Homo sapiens: one gene and its partner. The protein of the gene in region 1 purifies or fractionates together with the protein of each later gene. This does not show direct contact. Each region holds a gene or a part of one and is shown on either strand. Other genes may lie near its edges.

What was found.
Region 2: the proteins of PHTF1 (region 1) and CAPN5 purify together in Homo sapiens (affinity purification with mass spectrometry; 2 studies listed by BioGRID and IntAct, with this or other methods). This does not show direct contact.

Annotation. Positions count from the first base shown.
Region 1 is NC_000001.11:113,742,110-113,757,551, reverse strand, and holds part of PHTF1 (protein PHTF1), read left to right. Parts: intron 1-7,962; exon of another isoform or gene 7,963-8,046; intron 8,047-15,442.
Region 2 is NC_000011.10:77,079,420-77,094,861, forward strand, and holds part of CAPN5 (calpain-5), read left to right. Parts: intron 1-5,432; coding exon of another isoform or gene 5,433-5,467; coding exon 5,468-5,632; intron 5,633-8,522; coding exon of another isoform or gene 8,523-8,642; intron 8,643-14,262; coding exon 14,263-14,394; intron 14,395-15,442.

The DNA of each region.
Region 1 (15,442 bases):
AGAAGTGACACTTGATTTTTGGCCTCACTATCAGGAAAACAGAAAGGAGTGAGTTGTTCTATGATGAATTAGAGAGCAAATGTCCCATATAAATAGGGCTGGGGTTACTTAGCTCTGGCTAGTTTTTACCACTTGGCAGTGCAGGTCCAAATATTGCCAGAGTTTCAGATTTTTCAAGAGAAGCTGGAAATACACATTTTTATATGAAATATATTGTGCATTTTGTGTCGGATTTTTAAGAGACTCTTCCTTCTCTTCCTCCTCCTCCTTTGCAAGCCAAATAAAATCCATTTGTGGCCTGAATCCAGCCTATGGTCCCCCATTTTATTCAATCACTGGCTTAGAGTATGTGTTTTTGTTTGTTTTTTTGTTTTGTTTTGTTTTTGAGACAGAGTCTCACTCTGTCGTCCAGGCTGGAGTGCAGTGGCGTGATCTTGGCCCACTGCAAGCTCCGCCTCCTGGGTTCACGCCATTTTCCTGCCTCAACCTCCAGAGTAGCTGGGACTACAGGCGCCCACCACCACGCCCGGCTAATTTTTTGTATTTTTAGTAGAGACGGGGTTTCACTGTGTTAGCCAGGATGGTCTCGATCTCCTGACCTTGTGATCTGCTCACCTCCGACTCCCAAAGTGCTGGGATTACAGGCGTGAGCCACCGCGCCCGGCCTAGAGTATGGTTTTAAGTTTTTCAGGTTCTTAAACTTTTTTCTACACAGCTCTTAGAACTGAGAGGATTCTTATTTTATACTAACCAAGTGACCAAAAACTGTTATATAATTCAGAATGCCAGTTTATTAACTTATAATAGGGGAGGAGAGGGTTAAATTATCTTCTGATATTCCAAAGTCAGAGTTGTGGGGTTAAGCCATTTGGGGATGCTGGTACAAATTCATCATGGAATGGTTGCTTGGTAACCAAATGTAATTGGATAGTCTTGAGATGTGGAAAAGCCTAAAGAACCATCCTTGGCCCTCAAAAGAATATAACTCTCTGCGACTTTAATACTTACTTAAATCTTATGGATTCAGGGCCTCACTTCCTTGCAAAGTGCTGATAAATGCCAGCTGATTCTTGTTTTTGCATTACCTTTCAAAAAGTATTGCAGCAGACCCTTCATTAATACTTAAAAAAACTGGGTGAATACAACTTAATATTATCTGTTCTGTTAAATAGGCCAATCAATAGAAAGCTACTTGAACAACAAGTAGCCGACTAACTTTTCACAATTTGGTATAGTCCTTGATTATTTATATTAGTGGGAGATGGGGTTAGGATGAATAAGTCTCCAGATTTTATTTTGTGATTCTCTAAAGCCTGTCCTGTTATTTTTTTGTGAGCTGCTAAACATCACTGATAGTAAGTATGGTGTAATGGAAACAGCATAGAAGTGGAGTTTGATCTTGTTTTGTGATCTCTAGCCTTGTTATCTAACCTTCTTCCCCTAGCCAATTTAAAGATTTCCTTCACCCTTTTTTTTTTTTTTTTTGAGACAGAGTCTCGCTCTGTCACCCTGGTTGGAGTGCAGTGGAGCGATCTCGGCTCACTGCCAGCTCCGCCTCCTGGGTTCACACCATTCTCCTGCCTCAGCCTCCCGAGTAGTTGGGACTACAGGGGCCCGCCACCATGCCCAGCTAATTTTTTGTACTTTTTTTTTTTAGTAGAGACGGGGTTTCACCATGTTAGCCAGGATGGTCTCGATCTCCTGACCTCGTGATCCACCTGCCTCAGCCTCCCAAAGTGCTGGGATTATAGGCATGAGGCATGAGCCACCGCGCCCTGCCTGATTTCCTTCACTCTTTTCCATGTCATTTAATACATACCTTCCTTTTAGTGCATGATATCAAAGTTATTTGTTAACCTATGTGTGTTCATAGGCCTAAGGGTAGGAAGTGTGTTTGTTTCCTACTCTTAGAACATCTTGATTCATACTAGGAACTCTGTCTGTTGCTATAGTTAATTGAACCCTATCCATCATGCATATTTTTTACTCGTTCTCTCATAGGGTAATCTACCTAACCACGCCTTAATGTATGCTTTTAAATTTAGCGGCGGTGGGAAGAATGAAATGTAAAATAACTATAAACATTTACTGAGCTTTCAGTGTGATAGTAGAAAGCTGAAAAAAAAATTACTCAGCTAATGTGCCACTCTTGTACTAGGTGCTGAGAATACAGTGAAAAAGATAGATGTGATTGTTGCCTTCATGGGTTTCACAGTCTGATAGTGATGGGAGAAAAGCCCAGATATCTTTTTAATATGCTTAAGTCTTAAAAAATGACCAAAGTATAGCATACAAAAAAATTAATGCTAAATTTAAAAATACATGAACACAAATACAATTTTTTGAAAACAAAAAATAAAAACAAAAAATAAAAGAACAAATAAGCAAAAAAAATTTTAAAATAAAAATATTAACATCATATCACAGTACTGTTATATAATTTAAAATTATATATTTAAAAGTATAATTCAGAATTATGAAAGATAAATTTTAAAAATCTTAACTTGGGTCATGAAAAATGGTATGAACTCTTCAATAAGCATTTATTGAACTACAATGTTTAAGGCATTTTGTTGGGTGCTGAGCACAAGAGAAAAATATTAACAAACAGAAGTATAAGACTTGTTTAGAGGAAGAGCAAGTAAGTAGCCCAATATGATTGGAGAATAAGGTACATAGATAGAGTGATAGGCCATAAATCTATTTGAAGGTTACTTGACTGCTTTACTAAGAACTTTAGATACTATTCTGTAGAAAATTGAAAGGTTTTAATGGTTTTTGAGTAGAGGAGTCACATCATATCTGTGTTTTTGAAAGATAGAAATAAAAATATAGACATTATAATAAAATCTATGGAATATTTCCAGAGTAGTACTTATTATTCTCAATGTCTATATTAACAAAAAATGTCTAGTTTGACTAGGAAGGTTTACAATGAATCATATTAATATTGAAGAATCTAGAGAAAGAAAATGTAATCAACCAAAGTAAAACAGGGAAAGAAATACCAAAAATAAAATGAAAGCATCCATTACGTATTTATTTAACAAATATTTGTTGACTGCTTACCTACAATGTGGCAGACACTAGCTATGCCTACATAATGGTAAGTAAAAACATTCAATCATTTTTTTTTTTTTTGAGACAGGGTCTGGCCCTGTTGCCCAAGTTGGAGTGCAGTGGCATGAACACAGCTCACTGCAGCCTCAATCTCCTGGGCTCAAGTGATTCTCCCACCTTAGCCTCCTGAGTAACTGGGACCACAGGCATGCACCAACAGGTTTGGATAATTTTTAAATTTTTTGTAGAGACAAGGTCTTGCCATGTTGTCCAGGCTGGTCTCGAATTCCTGAGCTCAAGCAGTGCTTCCACCTTGTCCTCTCAAAGTGCCGAGATTATAGGCATGAGACGCTCTGCCCAGCCATATTCAATATTTTTATTTTCATGGAATTTATGACAAAGTGGTTGAGAATAATAAAAAGAATCCTTCTAATAAATGCAAATTACTTAGTGGCAAATACTGAGAAGAGGTCTGTTTACAAGCTACTATACTTATAATAAGGGAAATAAATGAGCCTAGTTGCTGGGCATGGTGGCTCATGCCTGTAATCCTAGCACTTTGGGAGGCCAAAGTGGGAGGATCGTTTGAGGCCAGGGATTTGACACTAGCCCGGGCAACATAGGGAGACTCTGTCTCTACAAAAAATAAGTTAGCTGGCCATGATGGCATCTGCCTGTGGTCCCAGCTACTCAGGAGACTGAGGTGAGAGGATTGCTTAAGCCTGGAGGTCAAGATGACAGAGACCCTGCCTTTAAAAAAAAAAAAAAGGCTGGGCACGGTGGCTGATGCCTGTAATCCTAGCAGGGAGGCCGAGGCAGGCAGATTGCATGAGCTCAGGAGTTCAAGACTAGCCTGGGCAACATGGTGAAACCCCTTCTCTGCTAAAAATACAAAAATTAGCTGGGCATGGTGACACGCACCTGTAGTCCCACCTACTCAGGGGGCTGAGGCAGGAGAATCGTTTGAGTGTGGGAGGCAGAGGTTGCAGTGAGCTGAGATCATGCATTGCACTCCAGCCTGGGCAACAAAAGCGAGACTCCGTCTCAAAAATAAAAAAAAAAAAAGAAGAACCTAATTAAGAAGGTCAGATAAGCTTTTGCTAAGGAATTGATTAAAATGAGATCTGAAGCATGAGTAGCAGTTAATTAGGTCAAGAACAAATACACTAATTCTACACAAACTTTTTCAGAAAATAGAGAAGGAAATATACTTCTCAGCTCATTCTATGAGACTAGTATTACCCTGAAACCTAAACCAGACAAAGACATCATAAGAACATTCGTTATGAATGTATGTGTGAAAATCTTTAACAAGATATTAACAAAACCAATTCTACAACACATAAAATGGCTTATCTACTATGACCAAGTGGGAGTTATCCTGGGAATGCATTAATTTGAAAACAAAGTAATGTAATATGCCATATTAATAGGATAAAGGACAATCATATGATCTTCTCAGTAAATACAGAAAGAGCATTTAACAAAATTCAATGCCTATTAATAATAAACTAGGTTCTTAGGGGAACTTCTTCAACATAGTAAAGGTTGTCTAGGAAAAGCCTGCAACAAACTTCACACTTAGTGGTTAAGACTGAATGTTTTCCCCTAAAATCAGGAACAAAGCAGGGATATCTGCTCTTACTATTTTTATTTAACATTGTACTGGGAGTCCCAGCCAATGTAATAAGCAAAGGAAAAGAGATGAAAGGCATTGAGATGGAAAGGAATATGAAAACTGCCTTTACTCATGACAGCATAATCCCATATTTAGAAAATCCTAAGAATATATATAAAAAATGACAGTAGGCTGGGCGCAGTGGCTCACGCCTGTAATCCCAGCACTTTGGGAGGCCAAGGCGGGTGGATCACGAGGTCAGGAGATCGAGACCATCCTGGCTAACATGGTGAAACCCCATCTCTACTAAAAATACAAAAATTAGCCAGGCGTGGTTGCAGGCTACTGGGGAGGCTGAGACAGGAGAATGGCGTGAACCCGGGGAGGCAGAGCTTGCAGTGAGCCAAGATCGCGCCACTGCACTCCAGCCTGGACGACAGAACGAGACTCCGTCTCAAAAAAAAAAAAAAAAAAAAAAAAAAAAAAAATTACAGTAACAAATGAATGTGGCAAGGTCTTCAAATACAAGATCAGTACACAAAAATCAGTTGTATTTCTATATACCAACAATGAATAATTCAAAAATAAAATTAAGAAAACAATTTTATAATAGCAACAAAGAATAAAACACTTAGGAATGACATAAAAAGTGTAAGATTCATACATGGAAAACTATAAAACATTGCTTAGAGAAATTAAAGAAGGTCTAAATAAATGGAATAGCATTTCATGTTCATGATCTGGAAGATTCAATATTGTTAAAATGTCAGTTTTCTCCAAATGTATCTATATATTCAATGTAATCCCTTCAAAATTCCAGCAGAAGTTTGTTTTTGGTAGAGATTGATGAGCTAATTCTCAAATATATGTATGTAATACAAAGGATGTAGAATATTCAAAACAAATTTAAAAAGAATAGTGTTGGAAGATTTACATTACTACATTTATAATACATCTGTTAGAACAAAATTAAAAAGATTGACAATACCAAATGTTGGCAAGGTGATGGAGGAACTACAACTCTTCTACTCTTCTACACTGCTGTTGGGCATGGAAAATGGAAAATAGTTTGGTGGTTTTAAAAATGTTAAATATGTACTTCTCACATGACCCAACATTTCCACTCCTAGGGTATCTACCTATATTTAGGGTATCTACTATATTTAACATTTTCTATCCAAGAGAAGTGAAAACATAAATACATGCAAATGTTCATAGCAGCACTATTCTTAATAGCCAGAAGTAGGAAAAACCCACGTGTCCATCAACTGGTGAATCAATTGGTATAAACAAATGTGTTATAGTCATACAATGAAATACAATTCAGCAATAAAAACTGTTAATACATACTGCATCATGGATGAACATAAAAAATGTCATGCTAAGTACAACATATTGTGTGATTGTTTATATGAAATTTCTAGAAATCTATAGAAATAGAAAACAGATCAAAAGTTGCCTATGGATTGAGGGGAACAGGGCTTTCCTGCAAACAGGCAGAAAGGAACTTTTTGAGGTGATGGAAATGTTCTAAAACTTGAGTGTGATAATGATTGCACAACTCTACAAATTTACTAAAAATCTAAATTATTTACTAAATCTGTAAAAATAGTTTAGTTTAATAGTATGTAAATTATACCTCAATAAAGCTACTTTAAAAATTATACCAATAGTAAAAGTAGGAAAAATCATAATATAGTACACCAAAAATGTAAATGTATACATATTCACAATTAAAATTGTTTTCTAAATTTTTAAAAAATATTTTATATTTTGTAGAGACAAGGTCTCACCACATTGCCTAGGCTGGTCTTGAACTCCTGGGCTTAAGCAGTTCTCCCTCCCTGGCCTCCCAAAGTGCTGGGATTACAGATGTAAGCCACCACACCCAGCCCTAAAATTTTTTAATTGAGAGAATATATTAAATCTAATGTCTAATATTATTTTCAGTGATGGAGTGTAACTTAGTCCTCCAAAATAAGCCTAAAATAAGAATCTCCCCTTTTACTAATCTTTTTTTTTTTTTTTTGGAGACAGAGTCCTGCTCTGTTGCCCAGGCTGGAGTGCAGTGCTCACAGCAACTTCCGCCTCCCAGGTTCAAGTGATTCTCCTGCCTCAGCCTCCCGAGTGGCTGGGATTACAGGCGCACGCCACCATGCCCAGCTAATTTTTGTATTTTTGGTAGAGGTGGGGTTTCACCATGTTGGCCAGGATGGCTCGATCTCTTGATTTCATGATCTGCCTGCCTTGGCCTCCCAAAGTGCTGGGATTACAGGCGTGAGCCACCACGCCTGGCCCCTTTTACTACTCTTTAGCATACTGTTTGAGATACATTTGCTAAGATGAGCAAAACATTCTAATTAATATTAATTAATATTATCTTTTCTTTTTTGTGTGTTTTATTTTTAAAAATTAATATTAGAGTGAACAAAAATCACTGTTTGAAGATAGCATGGTTTTGTATTTAGAGAATAAAAAAGGCTAATCAGAAGCACAGAGACTACTTCAGCTGTATTTATAATGTTTTATTTAAGCAGGATGGTGGCCATATGATAGATGACACTGACACTCCTCATTAAAGATGACAGTTTGAGGCCATGCGTGGTCGCTCACGCCTATAATCCCAGCACTCTGGGAAGCCGAGGTTTTTGCTCGAGGCCGGGAGTTTGGGACCAGCCTGGGCAACATAGCTCTACAAAAAGATAAAAAAATTAGCTGGGTGTGGTGGGCATGTGCCTGTAGTCCCAGATACTGGGGAAGCTGGTTGGGGGGGATCGCCTGAGCCCAGGAGTTTGAGGCTGTGGTGTGCTATGATTGTGCCACTGCACTCTAGACGGGGTGACAGAGCAAGACCCTGTCCTGAAAAAAAAACAAAAACAAAACAAAACCCAAAAAATGGTAGTTCAAATACATGCACTAATCTCTCCTGAAACCTCTTTAAAAGTACAACAGATAAGAAAAAATCATGGCAGCCTGCAAGGACTTAAAGAATGGAAGAAGAGACTACAGTAAATGAGAGCTATCAATACAATTTCGAAGGTTGGAAAATGAAAGAAGTAAAACTCTTAAGTGCCTGCAATAGGGAAAGCCAATAGGAAACAAGTAAAACCCCTGTAATTAACTTCTGAAAGACTCAGGAATTAGATGTATCAGGTATAATCTGTAGGAGTGAGAAAGAACTAAAGACAGGATTGTTTGAACATGTGTATAAGGGATAATAGATCTACCCCCAGATCTTCCTTATTCCATGTAGCCACATAGTTACCCTTATCTTCCTCTGACAGAAGACCGGGTTGAAGCTTGCTCTCTGGAGAGGCTGAGCCAGAGAAGTTCTGGATTCTGGAAGACCAGAAACAAATCAGAGTCTGGTGAGATGCTGCACTAATAATGGGGATTAAGTGAAAGTCTGGTCGTCAGATTTATAATCTGCAAACAGAAGACTGGAATTTCTTTTCGTCAAAACTGAGTAACCAAAGAGAACCTAAGGATACTGAAAAGTGAAATGACTGGCCACGCCTCTATAGTGAGGTCCACTATTCAAAATGCTTCACGCATTGCACACTGAGCTTGCATTCAGTGTGTTAGTGACTGTTAATTATAAATGGATAATTAAAGATCATCAAATATTTAAGACCTAAAGAAAAAGAAGAAAAGAGAAAAGAAGCAATGCAGGAATCATAAAAACAGTGTTTTTAAAGATATAATTACTACCTTTAAAGAACTGGATACTATAAAAAGACTGAGATATCTTCAGGACATCTATTGTATAACATTGGTGACTATAGTTAGTATGTTGTATTCTTGAAAAATGCTAAGAGAGTGGATATTAAGTGTTCTCACCACACAAATAATAACCATGTGAGGTAATGTATATATTAATTTAGTCATTCTACAGTGTATATCCACTTCAGAATATGTTGTACACACTGAATACATAGAATATTATCTGTCAATTTAAAAATTAAGAATGCTTAAAAAATAGACTATAGATTAGAAAGTGAGAAGACTAGAAAATAAAAATAATCAGAATAAATTCAGGGGTGGCTGGGTACAGTGGCTCACGCCTGTAATCTCAGCACTTTGGGAGGCCGAGGCTGATCGCTTGAGCCCAGGAGTTCAAGATTAGCTTGGGCAACATGGTGATACCCTGTCTTTACAAAAAATACAAAAAAATTAGCTGGGCTTGGCGTTGCATGCCTGTAGTCCCAGCTACTTAGGAGGCCGAGGTGGGAGATCATCTGAGCCTGGGAAGTCGAAGCTGCAGTGAGCCGTGATTGCACCACTGCACTCCAGCCTGGGTGACAGAGTGGGACCCTGTCTCAAAAATAAACACATAAATAAATAAAAATTAAAATAAATTCAGTGGAAAAGTTAGAAGATAAATTTGAGACCATTTCCCAGAAAAGTAGTATAAAAATGAACAACAAAAAAGAAAATAGCAAAGTGAGTGCAATTCATGCAGGAAATGTAATATCCAACTAATAGATGTTCCAGAAAAAGGAAATACATGGAGAAGAAGAAATTAATAAATAATTTTAAAAATTGCCCCAGAAATGCAGTACTGTGTATGTATTTCCAGATTAAAAGGATCTTTTCGTTGGGCATGGTGGCTCACGCCTGTAATCCTAGCACTTTGGGAGGCTGAGGCAAGAGGATCCCTTGAACTCAGGAGTTTGAGACCAGCCTGGGCAACAAAGTGAGATCCTATCTCTACAATAAAATTTAAAAATCAGCTGGGTGTAGTGGTGTGTGCCTGTAGTCGCAGCTACTCAGACGGCTGAGGTGAAAGGGTCCTTTGAGCCTGGGAGTTCAAAGGTGCAGAGAGCCGTGAATACAACACTGCACTCTAGCCTGGGCGACAAGCGAGATTCTGTCTCAAAAGAAAAAGGAAAATAAAAGGATCTTTTGAGTCATCAGCACTGAGAAACATTATCATGAAATTTCAGAACATTTAGAATTAGAGCTTGGGTTAAGCATGGAGTAGAGTGAAGGATCAAAACGGATCATGTAGACAAAAATTGGGAGTCAGAGATACTGCCCCTCAGCAGCAACTTCTAGCTCATTTGGAAGCTAAAAGATAATGGAATGTTCAGTGGAAGGTGAGGGACAATGGCACATGAGAGAAAGTGATTTTCAACCTGAAGTTTTATGCCCAGCCTAATTATTAATCAAGTGCAAAGGCACCACTGATATATTTTGAACTTAGAGTCTCAAAATTCATATCCCATACTCCCTCTCTCAGAAAGCTGTGGGAGGACATGTACTGTATTATAATCCATGAATAAGCCAGAAAGGAATTCATAGTGTCAGAAAACAGGACAGCCAACACAGCAAAGTAAAAGGAATTCCAGGATAATTGCAAATGTCTCAGGATGATACCTTATATCTGACCTAGAAAACAACCAGTCCAGAATGGAGTATGAGGACAGAAAATTGATATAGAACTCTTGAAGGGGGAAAACTAAACTGATATATGTTGTGTTCGAGCATATTGGAAGCAGATATGTAACAGAGGGAGTTTAAAGATGAATTAGTAATAGAAGATTAAGTGCATTAAAAAATGAGGCAATTACAGTTCTAGGACAAGCAAAAAATTTGTGAGAGGAAAATATAATAGTTCACTACTTGGCTTAGCTGTGAACAATATTTATGTAATTATAACCCTCTAAACATTGATGTAACAAAAATTTGTGATAAAACTCTATTGGAAAAAACTATAGTTCAGGAGGGCGTGCGTGTTTGGTGATGCTGTAATCATTAATAGTGTGTAGTATGTCTTGCATTGTTTTAAGCAACACACACAATTGATCCTCATGATAATCTTATGAGGTATGTGCTATTATCTTCCCTTTTTTATAGGTGAAGGAATTGAGGCATAGAAAGGCTAAATAAGAGTTATTTCCTCATCTTCAACAGTAAGAAATGAATGGATAACATCTGAAATTGATGAAAGCACTGTAAACATTTTTTGTTTTAGAAGTAAAGAGAAGAAATAGCTAGGATGTATGAATCAAGGGTAAGGAAGGGTGAGACTGGAATGTTATTTTTTATTAACCTTGTAATATGAGTATTATTTTAGTACAAATAAAGATTTAATTTTACAACATTTTTCCTCCAAAACCAAATAATACATTAAATGATGTTACCTGAGTAATAGGATATACATATATTTCCATATGCGATAGGTAGATTTAGAGGTATGTGAGTATTTACGTATATTGGCTATACCAATATGCTTTATTTATACCGGTGCCAAAACCAACAAATCTCCTTAGCATTTAGGCAAGAAATTTAGAGTCAGATGGACTGAACTGTATATTATAGTAATTTTCCTAATTATTCACTACCTGTAATTATTCTTACCTGTAAGAAGATTATATGGCTGCACTTACTGTCATGTGAGTTGCAGTGCCTTCCTATAAGAGAAGAATTCTTCCTGGCCCCACAGACTTCCACCTTAGTCAGGGGATTTGCTTGGCCAGTGGAATGTGAGCTGAATGTGACCTTCCTCCCATGACCCAATACTTTTCATTTTCTTACCTTTCCTATTCAGTGAATTGCTAAAGTACTGAAGTCAGGGTTTAGAGTTCTTCACCTTCACACTAATCTCACATTTTCAGTTACCAATACTTCTGGATGATACCTGCTAAATATCTTTTGAATATGAGTACTCTTCCCAGTTCACGCTTCTAATTACCTGGTCTAACCTATTGTCTACTCATCTGGTTGGCAAACTATTGCTTATGTGCAAATCTAGCTGAAACACAGCCAGGTTTAGTGCTTTACATATTTATATTCAATGTCTGTGTCTGCTTTAGTGCTACAGTGGCTGAGTGGTTGTGACAGAGATTGTATAGTCCAGCAGTCCCCAACCTTTTTGGCACCAGAGACCAGTTTCATGGAAGACAGTTTTTCCATGGACTGGTGTGGGGGGATGGTTTTACAATGATTCAAGCACATTACAATTATTGTACACTTTATTTCTATTATTACCTTATAATATATAATGAAATAATTGTACAGCTCACCATAAGGTAGAATCAGTGGGAGCCCTTAGCTTGTTTTTCTGCAACTAGACAGTCCCATCTGGGGGTGATGGGAGACAGTGACAGATCATCAGGCATTAGATTCTCATAAGGAGCATGCAACCTAGATCCCTCGAATGTGCAGGTCACAGTGGGGTTTGCACTCCTGTGAGAATCTAATGCCGCCACTCATCTGACAGGAGGTAGGGCTGAGGTGGTAATTTGAGCAGTGGGGAGTGGATGTAAATACAGATAAAGCTTCCCTTGTTCTCTCACCTGCCCCTCACCTCCTGCTGTGCAACCTGGTTCCTAACAGGCCACGTACCACTATTCCATGCCCTGGGGGTTGGAGACCCCTGATATAGTCCATAAAGCCTAAAATGCCATCTGGCTCTTTATAGAAAAATTTTGTCCACTCCTGATTAGATTACTGGGGTAGGTTTTTTAACTTTCTAACTGCTTTCTCTTGCTTCCTATCTCTCTTTACCCTCCATCTGTTCTTTATAGCAGAGCCAGGTTGTTGTTTTTTGGTTTCTGTTTTAACACAAATTTGATTATTTTTCTCATACTTAAAACTGTTTCCTGACTTCCTAGTACCCTTACAATAAAATCATACTCCTAGCATGGTTATAGTTTTCACATTATGGCTTCTTCTCATCTCACAAGTTTACCTCTCTCACCCATGTCTTGACCTCTTTTCACTTCCATTCTGTGCTTTAGGCCTTCTCAAACTTACTTTAGTTTTTACCATGCTATCTCTTATTCCTGGGTCCTCTCATGCTTTTCTTTCTTTCTTGCCCTGCCCTGCCCTGCCCTGCCCTGCCTTGCCCTCTCCTGCCCTGCCCTCCCTTCCCCTCCCCTCCCCAACTCCCCTCCCCTTCCCTTCCATTCCCTTCTTTCGAGACAGAGTCTTGCTCTGTCACCCAGGCTAGAGTGCAGTGGCTTGATCTTGTCTCCCTGCAGCTTCCACCTCCCTGATTCAAGGAATTCTCCTGCCTCAGCCTCCTGAGTAGCTGGGACTACAGGCTCATAGCAGCTACTCCCGGCTAATTTTTGGCATTTTAGTATAAGAGACAGGGTTTTACCATATTGCCCAGGCTGGTCGCCCTGAGGTCAGGGAATCTGCCTGCCTCAGCCTCCCAAAGTGCTGGGATTGCAGGCATGATCATATGTGTTTCTTGATTCCTCATTTTGCTATATCACATGTGCAACTTTACAAGTTCTTATACATTCTTCAGGTATCAGGTTAGATACTATTTTTCTTTGTGGAAATCTTTCTTGGACTTCTTAAATGTGAATAAGGTGTCCTTTATGGATGTTCCTGTAGTGCTATACTTGCCTTGTAATTGTTTTGTTGTTCACCATATGCCCCAAATCAGGGGTAACTTCCCTCTCTGCACCAGACTGTATAAATAGTTCAATTCTTTTGATTGTAATAAAATAGAAAATTTCAGCACCCTAGGAAATAGAGATTTCTCACAGGGTTTCACTTGTTTTTTATTCCTTGTTTAATACAAAGTCCAATTATATTGCATCAATACCTCCAGTGTTTTTGTTCCTCTTCCAAAAAGTGGGGACTTCATTTGTCAAGTGGTTCTGAGCTTGTGATGATGTTGCACAGTTATGTTGGGGGCAGACAGTAGAGAGGGCTGCGTACAGCCTACAGCTGGGGATCTGCAGAGAATTTCCAGACCACTACTCTGGCAACTAGTGATTATGCTGATTCTGTCCTACAATCTTTTCCTGGGCTGCTGAGGTAGAGGTTGTGGCCAGTAAGGAAATCCACTCATAATGCCCATTGAACCTCTCAAAGTTAAGCAGTCTTGTTTGATTTAAACAAAACCTCTCTCTACTTTGATTAGGGATGCATTTTGTGTCATATAGCGAAAGGCAGGATAGTGTAGTGGTTAGAGCACAGACTTTGGAATGAGAATGAAAGGGTTGGAATCTCTGCCTTGGTTGCCTTATCCGTAAAGTGAGGATAATAAAGGTACCAATCTCATAGGACATTTGTGAGGATTAAATGAGTCAAGTTAACTTAAGTACAGTCATGTGCCACATAATGATGTTTCTGTCATCAATGGACCTCATATACGACAATGGTCCCATAAGATTATAATGGAGCTGAAAAATTCCTATTGCCTAGTGATTTTGTAGCCATCCTAAAGTCATAGCACGACACATTACTCATGTGTTTGGAGTGATGCTGGAGTAAACAAACCAAATGCACTGTCAGTCATAAAAAGTATAGCATACAGTTATGTACGGTATCTAACACTTGATAATGATAATAAATGACTATATTACTGGTTTATATATTTACTATACTATACTTTGAATTGTTTAATTTTAGAGTGGACTCCTTCTATTTATTAAAAAAAAATCAGTTAACTGTAAAACAGTCTCAGGTAGGTCCTTCAGGAGGTATTCCAGAAGAAGGCATTGTGATCATAGGAGATGACAGCTCCCTGTGTGTTATTGCCCCTGAAGACCCTACAGTAGGACAAGATATGGAGGTGGGAGACAATGATATTGATGATCCTGACCCTATGTAGGCCTTGGCTGTGTGTGTCTTAGTTTTTATTTAAAAAGTAAGAAAAAAAAAAGCTTATGAAGATATAAAGAAAATGTGTGTTTTTAAACTGTTATTACAAAAGAGTAAAAAAGTTAAAAAAATTATAAAGCTTATAAAGTAAAAACATTACAGTAAGCTAAGGTTAAGTTATCATAGAACAGACTGGGTGAGGTGGCTCATGCCTGTAATTCTAGCACTTTGAGAGGACACAGCAGGAGGATCACTTGAGACCAGGAGTTTGAGACCAGCCTGGGTGACAAAGCAAGACCCCTTCTCTACAAAAACAACAACAACAACAACAACAAAAAACTCCTTGGGAGGCTGAGGTAGGAGGATTGCTTGAGCCCAGGAGGATGAGATTGTGGTGAGCTGTGATCGTGCCATTGCACTATATCATGGGCAACAGAGCAAGACTCTGTCCCAGAGAAAAAAAAGTTATTATTGTAGAAAGGAAGGTTTTAAAAAATGTGTAGCCTATGTTTATGGTGTTTATAAAGTCTACAATAGTGTACTACAGCAGTGTCCTAGGCTTTCACTTTCATTTACCACTCACTCACTGACTCACTCAGAGCAACTCCCAATCCTGAGAGCACTATTCATGATAAGTGCCCTATACAGGTGTACCATTTTTTATCTTTTTTTTTTCTTTATTGAGACAGAGTTTCACTCTTGTCGCCTAGGCTGGAGTGCAATGGCGCGATCTTGGCTCACTGCAACCTCAGCCTCCCGGGCTCAAGTGATCCTGCCTCAGCCTCCTGAGTAGCTGGGATTACAGGTGCCCACCACCACGCCTGGCTAATTTTGTATTTTTAGTAGAGACGGGGGTTTCACCATGTTGGCCAGGGTGGTCTTAAACTCCTGACCTCAGGTGATCCTCCTGCCTTGGCCTTCTAAAGTGCTGGGATTACAAGTGTGAGCCACCGCGCCCAGCCCCATTTTTTATACCATATTTTTACTGTACCTTTTTTAGGTTTAGACACAAATACCACTGGGTTTAAAATTGCCTAAATATTCTGCATAGTAATATGCTGGGCAGATTTGTAGCCTCGGAGCAATAGGCTGCCATATAGCCTAGGTGTGTAGTAAGCTTTACCATCAAGATTTGTGTGACTACGCTGTATGATGTTCAGGCAACAGTGAAATCACTTAAAGATGAATTTCTTA
Region 2 (15,442 bases), on another chromosome or scaffold:
TAATATGCTTGTAAGATCCATCCATAGGGTTGTGTGCAACAACAATTTGTTCATTTTCGTTATTGTTTACTATTCTATTATATGAATATACAAGAACTTATTGATCTGTTCTTTCATTGATGAACATTTAGCTTGTTTCTCATTTTCAGCTCTAACAAATACTATTGCAATAGACATTCTTGTACATGGTTTTTGGTGAATATGTCCATGCATTTCTATTGGACATATTCTTAGAATTACTAGATTATATGAACACATGATTATATTATTTCCTCAGGTTTTCTAGATATAGTCAAATGGTTTCGCAAAGTGATTATACCAATTTGTCCTCCTACCACTAATGCATAAGAGCTCTACTTGAGATTGTGTGTGTGTGTGTGTGTGTGTGTGTGTGTCTGTGTGTGTGTTTCACTTTAGTCATTCTAGTGGGGGTATAGCAGTATCTCATTGTGGTTTTAATTTGCATTTCCTTAATGGTTAGTGAAGTTGGGCACTTTTTCTTCCATTTTTAGACCATTTGAGTTTACTTTTTTTCTCATGTTCTTTTCTAAAAGCATTATTGTTTTACCTTTCAGTTAGATTTGAAATCTATCTGGAATAAGTTTTGTATACGGTTTGAGGTAGGGGTAAGACAACTGTTTTTCCTTATGGATAGCCAGTTGACCCAGCACCATTTATTGAAAAGATAAATCCTTTCCCCAGTGCATTGTGGCATCTCTTTTGTCATATATCAGGTGTCCTTATACTTGTGGCTTATTTCTGAACTTTCTATTCTGTTCCACTGTTCTATAAGACAGTGCCCAGTGAGCTTTGTGATCAGCCTTGTTACTTAGTAGTGTAAGTCCTCCAGCTTGTTCTCTTCAAATGGCTCTGCTTATTCTGGGTCCTTTGTGGCTTTGAGGCCCGTGGTGGCTTTGAGGCCCTCTTGCTGCTGGGCTTGGGCTCAGCTGTGTCCTTCGTTCTTATTATTCCCCTGGGGCTGATGCTGGCTCCATGACCCCATCTCTCAGAGGCTCAGAGAGGTAGGTGACTTGCCCCTCCACACAGCTCTGGAGCCTGGCCTTGGCTTCTGCCTCAAGGACAAATTCCTTGGTGTTCCCATCTACAAAATGGCTTAGGTGGTCCAGGGAAGGCTCACAGGTATCAGCCCGCTGGAAGATGAGGCCTTATTCCATCCTGTACACAGCCAGGCTGTCCCCGCTACCTCCAGCAGGTCCAGGGAACAGCAGACTAGGCCACACAGCCTCCTGGAAGAGGAGTACCAACCATGTCCCAGGTGAGGATAGACTGAGCTTCCCTAAGGCAGGCCTAGGAACAGATGCCACTTTCTTTCTGTCATCTGTCACCTTAGAGGCTGGAACCCAGTAGGGCTCAGAGGAGGCTTGCTGATTGACAGCAGCTCAGAGGGGTTCCCACCTTGCCCAAGGACACACAGCAGCTAAATGATGCAGTTGGGATGCAAACTCAGATCTGACTGACCTGCCAGAAGACTGGGTTCCTGAAGCTCCCTGGTGAGCACCCCAGCCCCCTCATTCTGACCCAACTCAGAACTTCCACTCTTGGTCCACAGAGGCCTCACTGTGCAGGCTGGGTCTGACTCACCGCTGCCCTGGCCACAGGAGGAGGAGGGCTGATACCAGTGAGCCTTCCCTGGAGATGATGGCCAGCTAAGCCATTTTGTAGATGGGAACATCAATGAGCTTGTCCAGAGTCTGCAGCCTCTTATGCAGATCTCAAGCCTCCAGACTCCGTATCCTAGGCTTCTCAAAGCAGGGCCCAGGTTAGCACTGTGCTCATTTTAGGGGGTGCCCTGAGGTGGTAATAAAGATGTCTTTCATACCTCTGAGCCTTTGCGTGAACTGTTCCCTTTGCCTGGAATGGCCTTTCTCTCCTGCCTCTGTGGCCAGGCCTGTGTGGAGGCTTCCCTGCTTTCCTCTTGCTGGAACCTCTGAATGACACATACTTCATTTGGCCTTATGTCTGTTGGCTACACTAGACCAACTCCGACAGGAACCCCAAGTTGTGGTAGCCCCCCCATACCTGGCGGGGGTCTGGACACATCGTGGGTGAAGCCCAGATGTCGACTGCCTGAGACTGTCAGTCCTCAGGGCACAGAGCATGAAAGGATACAGAGTGCTGCTCTGCATGGTGGGGTCTTGTTTGTTCCTCACAGTGGCCCAGAGGCCCTGGCACATTGTCTCTTCCAGACAAGGACCATGCAGACCAGTGAGGTAATGCGGCCTGCTCAGGACAGCGGGGGCCTGGGTCGAGGCTCAGGAGCTGGAGGAGGGCTGGGCCGCAGCAGAATGTGCTAGGGCTACAGTCTGGATAGTGGGGATGTGGGCACCGGCTGGCACCCAGCTGTCAGGGAGGGGAGGAGAGGAGAGCCAGGCCTTCCCCAGGGTGAAGGGGTGGGCCCTGCTGCAGCAGACCTGAGTGCTGGCGTCTGTGATGTGGAAAGCTGATTCCCCTTGGGAGCCTCCGCCACTCTCTGAGCCTTTTTCTCTTCTTGAAGGAATTCCTCCTGCACTCACCTTTGTTGGTTCATGCAACATAACTCCTCAATCCCTGGAGCCCCACATTGGACCCTGGGATAGAGAGAGGAGCTGGACACAGCCCCTCCCCTGGAGGGGCACAGGGTAGGCTGGGGAGGCAGACAAGTCATGTGCAGATGGGATACAGTGTTAACAGGTGCTGTCCCAGGGGCACCAGGATGGCAGAGGAACAGTGTGTGCAGAGGCCCTGAGGGAACAGTCTTGTGGGAGCTGCGAGGAGCTCCGAGCCCCAGAGCTTCAGCCCAGGGTGGAGAATGGTGGGGATGAGACTGGCAGGAGGAGGGAAGAGGGCAGGCACACAGGGCAGCTGGGAAGCTCAGGTGGTCCTGAACCCCACCCAGGGGTCCTGCTCGGCCCAAACAGCTAAAAACACCAGGGAGACAGGAAGTGCTACGGGCCTAAGCTCAGGCTCAGAAAGAAAAGGCCTGGGTGGAGCAGCTTGCCTGCCTCCTGGTCTATCCGTGGCCTTCAGTGCTCTGCCTGGGGCTAGCAGAGGAGACCTGACCCTGTCGGGGTGTTGGCCCCATAGATACAGTGGGAGGTGACCTTGGGGCAGATGGAGGGTGCAGAGGGGCAGTCTGTGCAAGGGCCGGGGCCAGAAGAACCTCACATAAGTAGGCCAAGGTTAGCCTGGCAGGCAGGTGAGGCTGGAGGGATGGGGCAACGGTATCAGGCCCTCAGCCAGCCAGGCCTGGCCCTGTGCAGCCCCTGGCCCAGCCGAGCTCTCCCTTTATGGCCTCCACCTCCCTTCCATCCTCCCCAGGAGTGGACCCTCCCAGCAGCGTTGGCCCCTTCCTAGCCTGGAGAGCAGCCAGACCCTCTTTCTCCACCAGCCTGGCTGTGTGCCCTGGGCGAGCTTCCTCTCCCTCTCTGGACCCTCTAGGCTCAGAAACACTGGAATTGCAAGAGCTGATTTCTGGGCTCCTGCTTTCAGCTTCTCTGATCTAATTCTTGTAGCCTAAATTGCTTCCTGAACTGACCCTGCCGGAAACCCGTGGTGCTAATGCTGCTCCTCGGTGACTCTGCCAGAAGCCTGAAGCCCGGAAGCTGGCTCTGTGAGCTCCTCCCCTCTCTCCCTCAGACCTCCAAGGCAGGGAGAATGGGTGGGAGGGGGCAGGGCTGCTGGCCTCCGTGGGCAGAGGGGCAGCCAGAGAAGTTAAGTGGTTGGCCTGAGGTCACACAGCAGCACTCCAGCAGGCCCAGTATGGATATGGGGGCAGAAGGTGAAGTGGCTTGGGTGCAGAGCAGGGGACAACTGCTCTCAGCTCCCTTGGCAGGTGGGGGGACAATGGCCCCCTTGCCCTCCCTGCTGTCCATCTGTGCCCATGCTCACTGCCCGCGCTCGCCTCTTTCCTTTCCTGTCTCTCCCTTCCCTCTTTCCCTCCACATGAGGCCCCAGTGAGGCTCCAGCTCAGCCACGGTGTGTGGGGAGACCCTAAGTGAGAGCGGCAGGGTCATACAGCCAAGGCGGTGGCACTAAAGTCAGAGGATCTGGGTTCCCGTCCGGACACCAGGTTTCCAGGGGAGCTTGGGCAGGTCACCTCACCTCACTGAGCCGCAGTTGTATTTTGTGAAAGCTGGCAGCCGTGTGCCCACCGGCACTGTTGGCAGGCAGTACACATGCACCTCTGGCCAGGGAAATGGGGCGTCTCTTGGGACCACTGGGTGTCTTGGCCCCTTCCCCCTCACTCCTCTTCCCACTGGCATGCTTGGCGGGCTCCTCAGCCTTCAGTTAATGGGTTGACTCCTTCCAGGAGGTGCAGCAGCACTGTGTAATTCCCATCACTGAGATGAGAAAACGGGCTCAGAGAGTTCACATGACCAGTTCAACGTCACCCAGCAGGAGGGTGGTACCACTGGGGCTGGCACTCACACCAGTCTTGATCTCAGATATCACTCCCACAGCCAGCCTGCCTTGCCTTGGTTTCCCTCAGGGCTGGGCTGGAAATTGTGGCCTTTACCCCAAAAGGATTGCACTGTTACCCTGGGCAGGCCCCAGGAAGAGTAGATCGGGGACTGTGGAGCTGCACCGCAGCCCAGATGGAGTTTGAGGGATGGGGGCGTGGATCATAAATGGGGTGGTCACTCAGGTGCTTGGCCGTCCGAGCATCTCTCAGCGCACCTGATATGCAGGCCCTGCCAGCCGCTGTTCCTTGCCCTGCCCTGCCCTCCACTCCCAGAGGCCTTCCCTGACCATGTTGGTCCAGTCTGTGTCCCTTGCACTTGGTCAGCACATTGGTGCAAAGTTCAGGGTGCTTGGCTGGGCCCACCTGGGCCCCTGGGGAATGGAGGGAGGGTTAAGGAGCCATGGGCCTGCTCTCTACAGAATTAGAGACGCCTATTCCCAAGATGCTGTGAGGAAGGCAGCATGGTGCGGGGAGGACCGGAGAGAATGAATGAATGATGCTGAGAGGGGTACCTGGGGCAAGGTTTTCCCACACCAGGCAGAAATGTGCCACTCTCTAGAGGTGGGGAGGGAAACCCAGAGGCACACGCTGCTTTCCTGTGGGAGACACACCAGCCAGGGAGCTGGCAGGGCTGGCCACTGGTCTGATTCCGTCTGAGGAGGTGTAGGGAAGGCTGGTCAAACAAAGGAAGGCAGGGAGGTAGGTGCGGTGTGGGCCAGGCCTGAGCTCTGTGTGGCCTGTGGGCCTGGTATCGCCTCTGAGCTTCAGAAACGAGAGAATCCAGTCTATGGAGTCAGGCCGGTCGGTGTCTGTCCCACTCTGCTGTATACCAGCTGTGTGACCTTGGGTAGGCTCCACGCCTCGCTGAGCCTTCCGTGCCTGTGCCATGGGGCTGATGATGTCCGCTTCACAGGGCACATCAGGGACCCAGGGACTCTGTGAGTGACCGTCTTCTTGCCTTCCTGTCCAGGTGTTCCCCCTCCCCTCCCTGGGGCAGCAGCCACCATGTTCTCGTGTGTGAAGCCCTATGAGGACCAGAACTACTCAGCCCTGAGGCGGGACTGCCGGCGCAGGAAGGTGCTCTTCGAGGACCCCCTCTTCCCCGCCACTGACGACTCACTCTACTATAAGGGCACGCCGGGGCCCGCCGTCAGGTGGAAGCGACCCAAGGTCAGTGTCTGGTCCCAGCTGGAGCTGGGTGAGCGGGCCCAGGCCCACCCACAAGGCTGGGCCTGCAGGGACATCGGGGTGGTGGGAGGAGGCATCCCTGGCCCCAGGCTGCTGAGAAAGTGAGGGTGCTGAAACGGTGGGATTTGATCCGGATGGGGAGCTTGGAGAATGGGCTGTAATCCTGTGGCCACCACTGGATTGGTTGAGGCCCAGCCAGGCCTTCACCCTCTCAGGGCCTCCACTTCCTCACAGGAAAAATGGGGCAGTAACCTCAGCCCCGCTGAGGGTCATTTTTGGAATAAAAATGGGGTGATGTGGATATGACCATTTTTGATAAAATGTAGATTGACATCCAAATGTAAGGAATTTACTTTCCTGATTGTTATCATCATGATTTTGAAATAGTCATTTGTGGTAGAAATGAAAAGTATTTATTATGATGATTAATCAATAATAATAATAATTGTAAAAAGATAGTAGTACCTACCTCATAGAGTGGTTGTGAGAATTAAAAGAGGTAATGCATGCAAAATTCCACTCACAGCCTGGCAGCCAGTACGGGACCATGGATACTGATAATGATGAACAGGTGGCGTCTCTCCGACCACTCCTTTTGGTCCCTGAGGCTAGAGTGTGTTACACAGAAATGTTTGGCCTCCTGGTGTGATTTCATCCCCTTGAACCCCGATTCCTGGGTGTGAGGGTGGGCTGGGGAGGGGTTCGCTGCTTGTCTGTGGGTCCTGCAGAATGGGGTCCCTGGTGGCCTGGGTGGAGGGGAGGCTGCAGGAGGTTACTCTCCCTGGCCTCCAGGGCTGTGCTAGTGACACTGAGGGTCGTCCCCTCACAATGCGGGAGACCATGCTGCTGTCTCAAGGATGCTCCAGGCTGGGAGGAGGCTGTGACTCCCGCAGCCCAGTAATCAGAGGAGGTGTCTTGGAGGTGAAGGGTGATGAGGTTTTTGCCCAAAGGGCCAGGTGGGAAAAGGCAGAGGGAATAGAAACTCACAGGTGGGAGCCCCTCAGGCTCATGTGGGCCTGTGGAGAGCCATGCCTGGGGTGGCAGATCTGGGGCCAAGATGCTCGACCTTGCTCTGTGAGTAGTGAGGTCCCGCGAAGGCAAAGGCTTTCAGCAGCCTGTAACAGGGTCAGATTTGCATTTTCCAAAGTTCCTCCTGATCCCCTGGGCTTTTTGGGAAAATGAAATGTAGTTTTCTAGTTTCCCTCCCAGGCTATGATCTCGAGTCCCTTCTGACTGAAAATACCCCGTAGATGTCCTTGGACTGGGACTCTTGAGTGGCAGAGAAACTGAGGCCAAGAGAGGAAGGTGCGTGTCCTAGATCACCCATGAGCTGCTAGCAGGGGTAGTTGAAGAGTCCTGCCTCCCTGCACCCCACCTTCCTGGCACCAGATAAAGGGCCCCTGGTGCCCTTGACCTCAGTCCCAAGAGCTGTAACAGAATCTCTGGCCCTGTACTGACTCTCTGGAAGGCCCAGGAGCCTCCTGGCCTGGCCACAAGAGTTCTGCCTCTTGGGCCCCCTCTCCCACGCCTTCCTCTCTTCCTTTGTCAAGTAGGTGGGGAGGGAGGCCTTGGCCTCAAAGGGCCTTTGTGAGGCCTTGGCTGTGGGGAGGAGGGCTGGGCACTCGAGCTCTTCGCCCTCCTCCCACTCCATCCCCTGGCTACCCCCGTCCTGACTCCCTCCTGCCCTCTGGCCATTGCCCAGACATTTTAGGTCCGTGGCTCCGAAAAGAGGCTGGTGAGGCCTGGCGGGAGCAGGCTGGGCTTGCTGCGGTGAGAGGAGGAGACGCCAGGTTGGCCCGCTTGGTACTCTCCTGCTGCGTGACCCAGGGGAGTCAGCTGCCCTTTCTGAGCCCCTTTCCTTGTGGGTTCAGGAGCCATGCCACACCTCCTCCTCTCGTTGCCTTCCTCGCTGGCTCACTTGGTGCCCTGCCCTTTCTAGACACGCAGAGCTGCCCTGCCCTGGATGTGGGGGCAGGTGACAGAGAGCGTATGGTGGCTGGTGTTCAGAGAGCTGTGTGAGTGGGGCCCAAGGGGCAGCAGTGATGGGGACTCAGACCAGGCTGGGGTGGATGGTCCACGGCACTGCCTGGATTTCCTAAACCATGTGTGTAGGCACTGCCTACTGGCTAGCCACAAGCCTGCAGGACAGGCAGCCCCTGCCCCACTAACGGGATGGGAGGTTTGTGGAGCAGGAAGTCAAGCAGGCTTGGCTCAGCTTGCTTGGCGGGCCCAGCCCAGTGGGTTATCATTAACGCCCAGCTGCTTGCCAGTGAGAGGGAACTTTGGCCTCAGGCAGCCTTGTTTCGATGGAGTCTTACCTGTGACCGCCTGTTTACAAATGAGAAGTCGTGCTGCATGCCCGTCCATCCCCTCCAGCTCCTTCTCTGAGTTGGTCCTTATAGTGGCTGCTCTGTTCTTAGAGGGTCTCCTCAGCCAGCCTCCCAGCCTCGCTGCCTCTCAAATGGAATGCAGAGGCTAGTTTTTGAGCCACAGTGAACTTGGCTGCAGCCTTGGCCCTACCTTACTAGAAGTGTGACCTTGAACAAGTCACTCCTGCTTGGGCCTCAGTTTCCTCATCTGTAATTGGGGAAGGATAATTCTTGCTGGTCACAGTTTCTGGAAACCGAAATGACTTGAGGTATCTGTGGTGTCATACACATGGGAGGCAGGTGACAAACTGGTTCCCCTCTCTTGCTCGTCTTCTCCTTGGCAACTTTTTGTTGGGGACCTAGAGCCACCTTGGTTGGGACATCCCATCTCCTATTGACTCTGCAGGTGGGACCAGGCCTTGTCCTCTTGGGTGCCGACCTGGGCACCTGCCTTCAGCCCACACCCTTCACCCACAGGCTCGCTATGTTTTTGTTCTTTCCAGTACAGTGGCCATTCGCTGGCCCCTCACAGGCCTGGCTGGGGAGATGCACGGAGAATGGAGAATGTCCCCAGGCCTGGGAGCTCAGGGTGTCCGTCCTCCTCGCTCAGGGCCCGGGACCTGGTAGGCGGCCTCCTGTCACCCTGTGGGGGCAACATCCCCTCATCCAGCATGCTGTCTCTCCCACATCTGGGTATGAGCCTGGAGGTCCTTTGGTGGAATGCACAGGGGACAAGGTGGGGTGGGGGAGGGGGACTAATGAACAGACACTGGTTTTGGAACCTGCAGAATTCCCCTAGTGCAGTCTCGGGGGCCCCAGCCTCAGCCCAGTCCCGGGGACTCTTGCCCATCAAGCCATTTCCTGGAGATGGCCCTACTCCTCGGCTCCCTGAACATAAGGCCTTTTCGTGCCACAGAACAGTCAGTTTGCAGCAAGGCCTGGCAGCGGGGGCACACCCAGCCGAACTGCCCAGGAATGACCCCCTTCTGGGCATGTGCTCAGAGATGGGGTTCAGTGGGGTCAGGGAGAGCTTTCAGAGGCCTTGAAGGGTGCGGACTGCCATGGAGGAGAAGGAGGTAGGGCTGGGGGAGGGCAAGTCTTCTGCAGAGGGGATGGGCTGTAGGCTACAACTCCCTTTCCAGTCCCAGATGGAAGTCCCGTGTCCTTCCCAGACCTGTTTCCCACTGTCTAGTTCATTCATTCTGTGATCCTAGATTCCAGGAGGGTGGTGACTAGGGTGAAGCTGGATGGACAAAGAGTGGGGGAGGAGGACGGATGTGGAGGGAGCCTCTGCAGATATAGCCCAGGTGCCATGGATCCAGTCTGCTGCCTTGCCTTGCCTTGTACACCAGGAATAGAAACCTGAATTTCTTGTTGTGCCACGAAGGGAGAAGGGAGGTGGGCTGGGCTGTGGCCTGTCAGGTAGAGTTGGTCTAACAGGCTGGGATGGGCTGAGCAGGGGAGCGGTGACTGCAGGTGCAGAATGCTGTCCTAGAGCTGTGTTGCCTGGAGAAATGGTCAACCCCCAGCCCTCAGGGGTAGCCCCTGTACAGCCCAATCCTGTGCACCACTTTGTCCCCCCTCCCTCCCAGGGACCTGTCTGTAGCCCCAGTGGAACCTGCCAAGCTTTGCTAAGCCTAGAAGTGGGCAAAGTCAGGCCTGGGCCCTGCTTAGGAGCTCACAGGCTGGTGGTGGGGACCCTAAGGAAACCTAGAGAGTGTGGACAGGGATGGAAGGGAGCACAGGTGGCTGGCACCAGATAAAGGGCCCCTGGCACCCGAGGACCATTTCGGAGGCAGTGTCTGCCTCAGGACACTTCGGGTCCCCATTTCCCTCCTGAACCTCCCTGCTTACCAGCACTCTCCATGCCTGCTCTGCCAGCATCACTGCCTCCAGGCAGCCTCCTCTGTTTTCTCTCTGGCTCCTGCTGTCACAGCTCTGCTCACATGGGGGGTCAGGGCCTGGCTCCTTCTCAAGATCCCTGCCTGTGGGCAGAGACCTTCCCTGACTCACTCTATGACCTATGTCCAGCCAGTGGCCCAGGAAAAGTGGAAGGACAAACACTAGGCTTGAGAAGCCTGGCCCCATGGTGGCAGAGGTGAGGGCCTGGGCTTCCCCAAACCCTTGGTCTCATTGCTATCTAGTGAGACACCCCCTAAGCTGGGTTAGGACAGGTGCAGGGAGACAGGTGAAGGAAGGATGGCTTTGTCACCCATAAAACCTAGCCCACCTGAGACCAGCCTGGCCAACATAGTGAAACCCTGTCTCTACTAAAAATAGAAAAATTAGCTGGGTGTTGGTGGCAGGTGCCTGTAGTCCCAGCTACTCTAGAGGCTAAGGCAGGAGAATCGTTTGAACCCAGGAGGCGAAGGTTGCAGTGAGCCAAGATCGCACCATTGCATTCCAGCCTGGGCGACAGGGCAAGACTCCCATCTAAAAAAAACAAACAAAAACAAACAAACAAACAAAAAACCTAGTCTACCTGGAGACTGCAGCCAGACTGCCTGAATTTGAATCTCATTTCACCTCTTCTTGTGTGGCCCTGGGCAAGTGACTTAACCTTTCTGTGCCTTGGTTTCCTCATCCGTAAAAAGGGGATGCCAACAGTGCCCATCTCACAGGGTTGTTTTGCACAGTGCCTGCCACATAGCAGGTGCCCAGTCATTGTGAGATATTTCTATTATTGTTCCTTTACAGGTGCCCCAAGGTGGCCCCTGGATTCCAGAGCAGACTCCAGGTGCCACCAACCTCAGGTGGTTTCTGTTGGTTAGAGCTGGTGACCCTGAGCCTCTCCTGGCAGTGGGAACATGCCTGGCTGCCTTCCGCTCTGTCTGCTCCTTCCCAGGCTGCACGATTGCCCCCAGGTTCCTGCTCTGCCACAGCAAGTCAGGGTGATGGAATCTGGGAATCGTGACTCCCAAGCTCGGTCTGTCTCTCAAGGACTGGAGAAGTGTCTGGGGCCAGAGCCCTGATCTGGGGCCCAGATCTGGTTGGATCTGCACCTCGGGTCTGCCCCAGCTGTGGTGCTTAGTGTTGGGAGACCCTGGTTGGGAGCCCAGCAGACCTAGGGCATCCCATCGGATCCGTCCACTTACTTGCCTTGTCACCTTGGACATCACTGCGCTGTCCTGGGCTCAGCCTCCTCCTCTCTGGGATGGGGCAGTTGTGTGTCTGTCTTAGGACACTGGCTGGGAGGATCTGAAGTGGAGGGACACCTGAGTCACTTCCTGCTGTAAACCCTGGTGATGCCAGGTGGTAGCTGTTTCTCTTTCCATGGCATGATGTGGCTGGGGTCCTCCGTATATGGAAGCCCCTCTCCCTTCCCGGTCTTGCCTGCCCTCCTGGCCTCAGGGAACAGATGCTAAGTCATAGCTCCCTCTGGGTCAGAGGATGGGCTGGATGTGGGGTGTGGTCCAGGGCTGGGAGGGAAGACAGGAGGGCAGCGGGGAGGAGAGGGAAAGTCCCTTCTTCCTGCCTGTGCTTCCTGACGGGGTGCCGTTGGGGATGGATGAGACCAGGCGGCCTCACTGGGTTTCCTAGACCTGTGCTCTGCAGAAGCCGCCGTGCAGGTTGGCCGTGGTGCACCCTGTAGTGCCAACTGGAAGGAGGGGCCAGGTCTCAGGAGCTGCTCATGCCCTTGGGGGAATTCTAGCCCTTTCTCTGACCCTCTAAAACTCTGGTTCTTCCGGGCAGAGGGGACAGCAGGGTCCCCATCTTGGTGGGAACTAGGAGCCCTCTTCCCCATTCTCCCTTGCAACTGCTCTGCTCCACGATCTGTAGAGTCCCTACACAGCCCTGCTGGGATGACCATTTATCTCCTCTGCACAGGTGAGGCCCAAAGTTGCACAGCAGGGAGCAGACATTCAAATTCGGTCTTCCTGCCTCTGCCACCCTCTGCTGGCCGCCTGTGGTAGGACCGCAGAAGCTCTTGGGATGGAACTAGCTCAGGAGCGCCTGCTGGAGTGGAGGCAGGCAGAGGGCTGCTGCCATCTGCCCATGCTGTGTGGCGGGGACATGGTATTACACCTCCCTGGGCCTCAGTTTCCTTATCTGTAAAAGGGGATATTGCCCACTTCTCAGTGCCTTGGTGAGGATGGATTGTGGTGTCAGCAGGATGCCTGGTACATGAAAGGCATGTCTCAGTGTTTGCCTGTCCCCACCCTCCACCATACCCACAGCCACTGGGGAGCAGTGGCTTCCTCAGCTCAGTGAGGCGATGGGAGAGGAAGAGGGGCCTGCTCTGTTCCCTGGGCCAGGGCTAGGGATCAGGCCAGGCCCCACCCCCAGCTCAGGCCTTGGGGAGGGATGATTACAGCTGAGGGAACACAGGGTGAGCTGACCCTTCCTGGTTGCATCTCTTGGTGCTGGAGCCACCCATAGAGGTCTGGGCATAGCTTCCTAGCACCTGAAAATTGAAGGAGACTTTCATTCGCTTTGGGTCAGGCCCTGGGCTTGATACTTTACATACACTGATTCCTCCTCGCAAAGTAGAAATTATTGGCCATGCACATTGGCTCAAGCCTGTCATCCCAGCACTTTGGGAGGCTGAGGCGGGAAGATTGCTTGAGCTCAGGAGTTTGAGACCAGCCTGGGCAACATAGTGAGACCTCATCTCTACAAAAAATTTAAGAGTTAGCTGAGTGTGGTGTGTGGGCCTACGGTCCCAGCTATTCGTGAGGCTTAGGCCAGAGGATCGCTTGAGCCTAGGAGGTTGAGGCTGCAGTGAGCTGTGATTGTGACTGCACTCCAGTTTGGGTGACAGACGAGACCATGCCTCAAAAAGACAAAAACAAAAACAAAAAACCCCAAAATCCAACAACATAAAGAAATTGTTGTTTCTATTATATAAATCAGAAAGCCGAGGCTCAGAGAGCTCGCCAGATTGCCGATTGAGGAGCTGGAATTCAGTCTCCAGTCTGAAGCCAAAGCCCATGCTTTTCCCTTTCACAGCACTGCCTCAGGGGGCTTTTAAGGAAAATACCCCCACAGCAAGAAGAGGTGGAAAGCCCAGGCCAGAGCTCCTTGGGCAGGGTCAGGTGCAGAGGGCACCTGGTACTGGAGCCCCCCTGGGCTGCCTCTCTCTTGGCAGGCAGAGCAAGGGGCTTCCAGAAATTAGGAAGGGCTGAGCCTGAGAGCAGCCAGTTGCTCATGGATCATTCCCGGGTCAGCGGCTGCCCTGGCCGGATTCCCTGGCTGCGTCTCATGGAGCAGCCTCTTGGGCCGTGCCCACCAGTCTCTGTAGAAAATAAAAATGGAGGCTGGGCGCAGTGGCTTATGCCTGTAATTCCAGCACTTTGGGAGGCCGAGGCCAGCAGATCAGGAGTTTGAGACCAGCCTGGCCAACATGGAGAAACCCTGTCTCTACTAAAAATATAAAAATTAGCTGGGCGTGGTGGTGGGTGCCTGTAATCCCAGCTACTCAGGAAGGTGAGGCAGGAGAATTGCTTGAACCCAGGAGCTGGAGGTTGCAGTGAGCTGAGGTTGCACTACTGCATTCCATGCACTCCAGCCTGGGCAAAAGAGCGAGACTGTCTCTAAAGAAAAAAAGAAAGAAAAAAGGAAAAAAAGGAGTTTTTGCTCCACTTGAGCATTTGCTTGCTGTGTGCCTTTGACAAGTCACAGTCCATCTCTGAACCTCCATTCCTCGCCCATACAATGGAATGACAACTCCTCGCTCCTTGGGTGGCGTGAAGACCTGATGAGATTATGCGAGGCAAGTGCCATGCGGGGCCTGGCCCACCGCTCCCCACTGGCCCCTCGCTTTGTGCTCCCCAGCTGGGATATGGGTGTTTGTCCCATGCCCGCACCCCCACCCCACTTGAACCTGCTGTACCCCTGTGGGCTGGCGGGGGTGGGCACTCAGGCTGCTGGTGCTAGAGAAGGAAGGGAATGGAGCTCTTGCTGGTTAGGGAGGGGCGCAGCGGGTAGGAGGAAGGCAGTGCCCCGGGTCCAGCGCTCTGACGTCTTCCCACAGGTTCTTCATCAGCAAACCTTTAGCGGAAGAGCACTCTCTGGCCAGGAAGGGGAGAGGGCATCCCAGGCAGGACCGCGGGGTGGGGGGCAAGCGGGGAGCAGATGGGCCCTATGGGGCCCCAAGTCTGTGGTGGGAGGCAGGTGAATCACCATGCTGATGATCACACAGCAAGTCTGTGTCTGTCACGTCTGTGTCTGTCATGTCTCCTGCCATGGGGGGCATCCGCATGCTCCTCCGCCCCTCACGCTCTCTCCTCGCCTTCTCCGCAGGGCATCTGCGAGGACCCCCGCCTCTTTGTGGATGGCATCAGCTCCCACGACCTGCACCAGGGCCAGGTGGGCAACTGCTGGTTTGTGGCAGCCTGCTCGTCACTTGCCTCCCGGGAGTCGCTGTGGCAAAAGGTGAGGCCTCGGGCAGAGTGGGCAGGGTGCTGGGGAGTGTGAACGCAGCCTGTGGCCCTCACTGCCAGACAGGCGGAACCTGATTGTGGCAGATGAGACTTTCAAAAGCCTGTGCCAGGGATGGGGTGGGGGCCCCCAGTACTGGCCGAGCGTCGGAATTGCCATCCCTCACCCTTCAGCTGGGCACCCCCAGGGGCAGGTGCTGGGAATCCGTCAGGCTCCCAAGGTCATTCTGATGTGTCCCCCCCAACACTGTTGGGGACACTTGGCAGATTAATACACACCTGTGAAATGTGGAAGCTGTGTGCATCACATTTAGTGTGCAGACACCACTGATGGGGCTCAGGAGACCCCTGACAGACACAGACCTGCTGTGTGACTCAGCTGGTTGCTGTCCTCCTCTGGGCCTGACTTTTCCCAGTTGTTCAGCAAGGGTGGTTTGGTGATCCCCAGCTTCATGACTCCCAGTTCCAAGCTGCTGGTGTTCTGGACCAGGGCCAAAGGGTTTGGGTGGGAAAGAATGGGCTCTGGTCCTGCAACCCAACCTCCTATCCCAGCACAGTTCCAAGCTGCTGGTGTTCTGGACCAGGGCCAAAGGGTTTGGGTTGGAAAGAATAGGCTCTGGTCCTGCAACCCAACCTCCTATCCCAGCACTTGGCAGCAGGGCCTTAGATTCCGTGCACAGGAGGCAGGGAGGCTGGAGTGGAGGCAGACCCTGGCTCCCTGAAGAATTATTGGCAGGGACTGCAGGGGGACTCTGGTCATTGCCCCTTGCTCATCCCTGCCCTTCTGCCATCCCTTGGGAGGGGCTGGCAGTGGGGCTGAGGAGCACTGGACATCTGCATCTCCCAGGCTTGGCAGTGAGCCTCAGCACTTGGTAGCTTTGGAGCTGGCCTCAGGTTACTCATCAGCAAAATAAGGACAATCGGAGTAGCTGTCTCTCGGGGAGTGGTGAGGATAGGACCAGATGCTGCACTCAACATGCCTTGTGCGGCATCGTGCTTGGCCAAAGGTGGCTGTGCCTACCAGCATTATGATAATTAATATC